Linked DNA regions of Homo sapiens. The gene in region 1 interacts genetically with each later gene. Each region holds a gene or a part of one and is shown in the gene's direction. Other genes may lie near its edges.

Evidence for each region. Genes that interact genetically often act in the same process or in processes that back each other up.
Region 2: changes in COPS5 (region 1) and UBA3 together harm fitness less than expected from each alone (positive genetic interaction), as found in Homo sapiens cells (one large-scale study listed by BioGRID).

Annotation. Positions count from the first base shown.
Region 1 is NC_000008.11:67,042,579-67,045,133, reverse strand, and holds the end of COPS5 (COP9 signalosome complex subunit 5), read left to right. Parts: intron 1-1,816; coding exon 1,817-1,901; 3' UTR 1,902-2,055; downstream 2,056-2,555. UniProt on the Homo sapiens protein: Probable protease subunit of the COP9 signalosome complex (CSN), a complex involved in various cellular and developmental processes.
Region 2 is NC_000003.12:69,073,866-69,077,365, reverse strand, and holds part of UBA3 (NEDD8-activating enzyme E1 catalytic subunit), read left to right. Parts: intron 1-1,855; coding exon 1,856-1,936; intron 1,937-3,500. UniProt on the Homo sapiens protein: Catalytic subunit of the dimeric UBA3-NAE1 E1 enzyme. E1 activates NEDD8 by first adenylating its C-terminal glycine residue with ATP, thereafter linking this residue to the side chain of the catalytic cysteine, yielding a NEDD8-UBA3 thioester and free AMP.

The DNA of each region.
Region 1 (2,555 bases):
TTCAATAAAGCTTTAAATCCTAAGATATTACAGAAGTGATTGTCTCTCTCTTAAATTGTGCTTCTAAAACAGTAATTTAGTATCCCAAATTTTACTACCAAAGATTTTATTAGGAACAAATTTGGGATGTGTTCTTTAATAACTTACGAAATAATTATGTGGACCTTCAGATATATAGGCTATACAAAGTTGCAAAGATTAATAACATTTACTTTCACAGAAATTTGAATTTTAGGCCGGGCACAGTGGTTCACACCTGTAATCCCAGCACTTTGGGAGGCCAAGGCAGGCAGATCACCTGAGATCAGGAGTTCAAGACCAGCCTGGCCAACATGGTGAAACCCCATCTTTACTAAAAATACAAAAATTAACCGGGCGTGGTGGCGGGCACCTGTAATCCCAGCTATTCAGGAGGCTGAGGCAGAAGCATCACCTCCACCCAGGAGGTGGAGATTGCAGTGAGCCAAGATGGCGCCATTGCACTCCAGCCTGGCCAACAAGAGCGAAACTCTGTCTCCAAAAAAAAAAAAGAAAGAAAAGAAATTTGAATTGTAATGCAATAATTAGAGGCAGAAAGGAAGGAAGAAACATATTGACTTCTATAAACATTTATATGTTGGTATCTATTTTAAGAACTGGTTTGGTTTATAGGGAAAAGAAGAGAAAAGAGTAGCTAAAGTGTATCCTGGGATTGGAGGTCATTTTGGGTTAGCCTTATTTCACTGCCATCTTCTCAGTGGGTTTTTAGAAGGTAGAGCTAGTGGCCTGCATAAAAGTTGCGTTTTTCGGCTGGGCATGGTGACGCATGCTTATAATCCCAGCCCTTTGGGAGGCCAAGGCAGGCATATTGCTTGAGCTCAAGAGTTTGAAACCAGCCTGGGCAACATGGCAAAACCCCATCTCTGCAAAAATTTAAAAAAAAAATTAGCTGGGCATGGTGGCGCAGATCTGTGGTTCCAGCTACTTAGGAGGCTGAGGCACAAGAATCACTGGAGCCTAGGAGGCAGAGGTTGCAGTGACCCATGATTGTGCCACTGCACTCCAGCCTGGGTGACAGAGTGAGACTCTGTCTCCAAAAAAAAGTATTTTTCGTTGGCATCAGGAGTCATTTTAGATACTTGCTTTGAGTGTGTGTTTTGTTCATCTGTCTTTATGTATGTCATTTATCAGTTTATCTACATTTATTAATTATGAAGCAAAAATTTTACTATGGCAATGTCTTCAATTATATAAGAAATAGAACAGAAGTAGTAATCAAAAGTAGAGAATTTTCCTTTTTGGGGTAGCTTTACAAGAATTGCATCTCTTCTGAGTATTGGTGGGGTTTTGTCATTTCTTTTGCCTTATACTTTTTATCATTTCTAAAATCTAAGGCCTTCACCCGCTAACCTAAGTTTGACTTCTGATTGTTGGAGGATGCTTGTGATTATTTCAGAAAAAAGCATAGTATTCTTTAAAATTATTTGTCAAATTATCCTAAGTAATAAACAAGGAATAACAGATTTTAATATAATATAATATTAGAATCAATCTCTAATTACAGGTTTGTATAATTTTACTCACCTTCTAAAACAGAACAATTGTATCAAATTTTACGTTGTCATTCTCTTGTGAAAGTTCTAGTAAGTAATGAAATGGTCAAAAAGACATGGGGAAGACTAATAAAATCACAAGGGAAAACTTCAGATTGGGGTGGTTTGAGAAGTATGAATAAAACTAAACTCATTGGAGTTACATGGATGGATTGGGGCTGATCTTGTGTGTTTGAAATAGTTTTCAATTTATGACATCATGTGATGTGTGTTTTTTTTTCCAGCTGTAAAACTACCATAGAAGCTATCCATGGATTGATGTCTCAGGTTATTAAGGATAAACTGTTTAATCAAATTAACATCTCTTAAACAGTCTCTGAGAAGTACTTTACCTGAAAGACAGTATGAGAAAAATATTCAAGTAACACTTTAAAACCAGTTACCCAAAATCTGATTAGAAGTATAAGGTGCTCTGAAGTGTCCTAAATATTAATATCCTGTAATAAAGCTCTTTAAAATGAAATTGTCCTTTGATTTTTTTGTGGGAAGATTCGCAATATTTTTCTAGTATCCATTACGGTTCTTGAATATGAGAGAAAATATATTTATTAGAACTTTCTATTTTTAAGTTTAGACTATCTAAATTAGTCAATTTCAGCATTTCACTTGCCATACTGATTGTCAGAACCACTTTTCAATTTGTCCCTTCTTTTGACTGTCTGTAAGTAAAATATAATTTAACAGTTCATTATTTTAATAATGTATTAGGAACACTTTTAATGTTCCTACAAAACATTAGCTGAGTAGTACCATAAATTATTTTCCTGAAAATCAAATACTTATTAGAGACAGCCTAGCACAGGGTATCTAGTCCTTCAAATATTCATCACATACCTTTCCTGAGCTGGTGACTGTTACTCTCTGGAAATATGCTGAACAAGCTAGACATGGCCACTGTCCTCACAGAACTTCTGGAGGCTAAAGCTTAATTAACAAGAACTTAAAGATACTGCTGTGAGGGGA
Region 2 (3,500 bases), on another chromosome or scaffold:
AATTTTGGACTGATAGTGTCTATCTTAAGGCAAGTGTTCACTTATATGTCACTTTTTTTTATTACAGGGTAGGGAAAAGTATAGCACATCTTTATGTGCTTTTGTATTTATAAAAAGATAGTATTTTGAAATAGAAATATTGTGTTACTCCCATAAATTAACGTGCAAACTCTTGGTTTGGCCCAGTGTCTCATGTGAATAACTTTCTCCTTTAATGCTGGGCAGAACTGAAAGCATTAAAAATAAAAAAAAAAAAAAGAAAAAGAATTGAAAGTATTAATTCTGTCTTTCTTTAGATAACACACCATATTTTCTTGTGCTTCTAAATTTTTTTTTTTGCCTGATAATTTAAGATTGTTACTTCTGTTAAATGATTGTATTTCTGCTGATAAGGAATTTTCTAAGAGTTTTATATGTTTTCGTGTTATCTCATGTTTTGTGAGTTTCGCTCACTTTATTCAAAAGGAGATGTTGGCCAGGTAAGGTGGCTCACGCCTGTAATCCCAGCACTTTGGGAGGTCAAGGCGGGAGGATCACTTGAGCCCAAGAGTTCCAGACCACCCTGGGCAACATAGAGAGAACCCATCTCTAAAAAAAAAAAGAAAGAAAAAAAGAAAAGAAAAAAAAATTAGCTGTGCATGATGATACATGTCTTTGGTTTCAGCTACTCAGGAGGTTGAGGTGGGAGGATTGCTTGACTGCACCTGGAGGTGGAGGCTGCAGGGAGCTCTGATCATGCCACTGCACTCCAGCCTGGGTGACACAGTGAGACCCTGTCTCAAAAAGGAAAAAAAAAAGCAGCTGTTACTCTTTCCCCTTCCATCTGCCGCAGATGGAGTTTTGCTTTTGTTGCCCAGGCTGGAATGCAATGGTGTGATCTTGGCTCATGGTAACCTCTGCCTCCCAGGATCAAGTGATTCTCCTGCCTCAGCCTCCCAAGTAGCTGGGATGACAGGCGCCCACCACCACACCTGGCTAATTTTTTATATTTTTAGTAGAGACAGGGTTTCACCATGTTGGTCAGGCTGGTCTTTCCTGACCTCAGGTGATCCACCCACCTCAGCCTCCCAAAGTGCTGGGATTACAGGTGTGAGCCACAGTGCCCAGCCCTGTTACTCTTTTTACCTTATTGTTTTACTCCTTTAAACACTTTGGGCAGTGCTTGATCCTCTGTTTTTTAAATTTTTAAACTTTTATATTTTTAGGAAGTCAGTTAACTGAATTTGATGTTCTCTATCCCTTTGCAAAAATTAAAAAACAAATTAGAGATAGTTTTCCTTGTTAAAAATACCCTTTAACTTTCATACAATAAAAGGCAATTTAAAAACATTAATGGCCGGACGCGGCACCTCATGCCTGTAATCCAAGAAACTTTGGGAGGCTGAGGCGGGCGGATCACTTGAGGTCAGGAGTTCAAGGCCAGTCTGGCCCACATGGTGAAACCCTGTATCTACTAAAAATAAAAAATTAGCCAGGTGTGGTAGTGCACACCTATAATCCCAGCTACTCGAGAAGCTGAGGCAGGAGAATCACCTGAATCTGGGAGGCGGAGGTTGCAGTGAGCCGAGATCCCATCAGTCACTCCAGCCTGTGTGACAAGAGCGAGACTCCGTCTCAAAAAAAAGAAAAAAAAAAGAAAAATTAACATTGAAACTTCCTGAAATCATTAGAGTTTTAGAATTCCTGGTTCAATAGAATTCACAAATTTCAAATAATTGAGCAAATACAAAGTCTCCTCTTTATCCTAGTGGCATTTTTTCCTGGAAACATCAGAAACTATTTTAAAGTTTGTTGCTTTATTTATAGTCTTTGCGGTTATCACCCAGCTTTTAATATGCCTTTCCATTCTTTACAGTCTCTCCAGTTCTTGTTAGATACATGTAAAGTTCTAGTCATTGGAGCTGGCGGCTTAGGATGTGAGCTCCTGAAAAATCTGGTAATATATATACATATATATATAAATATTTTTTTCTTCTTTGTGATAAGTAAACCTTACTTATCTGTCATACTAGGGAATTTCTCGTGATTCTTAACCTTTTCTCTTGAGCCTTTGTTAGATAAGTTTAGCATGCCAAATTCCAAACAGTAATTAAAATGGTAGAACTTTGGAACTTTTTAAATTCTAAAGCTCTCAGCTATAAAGTTATTGATAAAATTTCATACTTCAGTTTTCTTCTCTGATCTTTAACAAACAACTTTTGGTGCTTCCTCTGGCAAAACGCTCCTAACTTCAATGAAGTAAATAACAAAACTGGCAATTCATATTTTAATGTATAGTTTCAAATAATTTATTATTTCTTTTGCTTCCCCAAATAACCCAGCTAGGTGGGTAAGGCATTACCCCATTTTATATAGAGGGAGACATTGAGGTTTAGAGATGTTGACTGAGTTGCTGAAGTTTTTGTGGATTATAGCGATTTGCCTGGAATTGAATCCAGGTCATCAGTTCTTAGTTAAGTGTTCTTTTTCAGTGAACCATTAGGTCATTTTATGACCTAATAAGACGATTGTGGACACCTAAGGTTTGGGAAAGCTAAACCTTTACTGAACTTATTTGCATATATTTAGAAATAAATTAAGTATATAATTTGATTTAATTAATTGGTTTCCTTGACTTTTTCTAATCACAAAGTCGCTTTCTATAAATTTTAATGAGTTTATGTAACAAATGAGTAGAGGCAGAATTGGTTTAGAGTTGTATGCTAGGCTTCTCACTGCTGTGTAGAAAAGTGGAAATGCTGGAATAGACTCTTTAGAAAATAAAGCAGGTCACAGCCAGATGGAGGACCCAAATAATTGGCCAAGGGGGTTAAAGTTTAAATATAAACATAGCCACATTAATTTTGTTAAGAAACACTAATGTCGCTTGAGTGAAGTTGTAAAAACTTAAATATACTTCACTGTATTTAATGTCTTGCTGGGTTCTGTGGGGATTATATGTCATCGTGGTCTCTGTCTTCAATCAATCTGAAGTTTCATTGGGGAGATAAATCTCACATGAAATAAATAGCAGTATGCATGATATACTCTGTGGTGGAATGCCAAAATGACAGTACCGTATCAAACATAAATACTCTAGCAGTGTGAGAACCAAAGACTTAGAGAAGGAAAGGGTTTATGGAGGATGGGCATTGGTTTTTGTTAGGTATTATAAATGTACAAGTTTCCTAAAGCTTATTAAATTTTGAAGCCATTATTTGCAAATGTGACATTTACTAATTTTAAGTGTAAAATAATTGAAGATTAGATCTGAAGATTAGTCACCAAGCAACTTTAAGGAGTGACCTCTTCTTTATTGCATTATAGTAATCTTTTACACAAAAGAAGAAAACTAAGGGTTTTCAATTTTACTCCTTGTTTTGCTTATTTAATTCATTGTAAGCCCCCTAAAGGCTCATTCTAACAAAAAAGAATATGATACTAGACTGGGCATGGTGGCTCACACCTGTAATCCCAGCACTTTGGGAGGCCGAGGCAGGCGGATCACAAGGTCAGGAGAT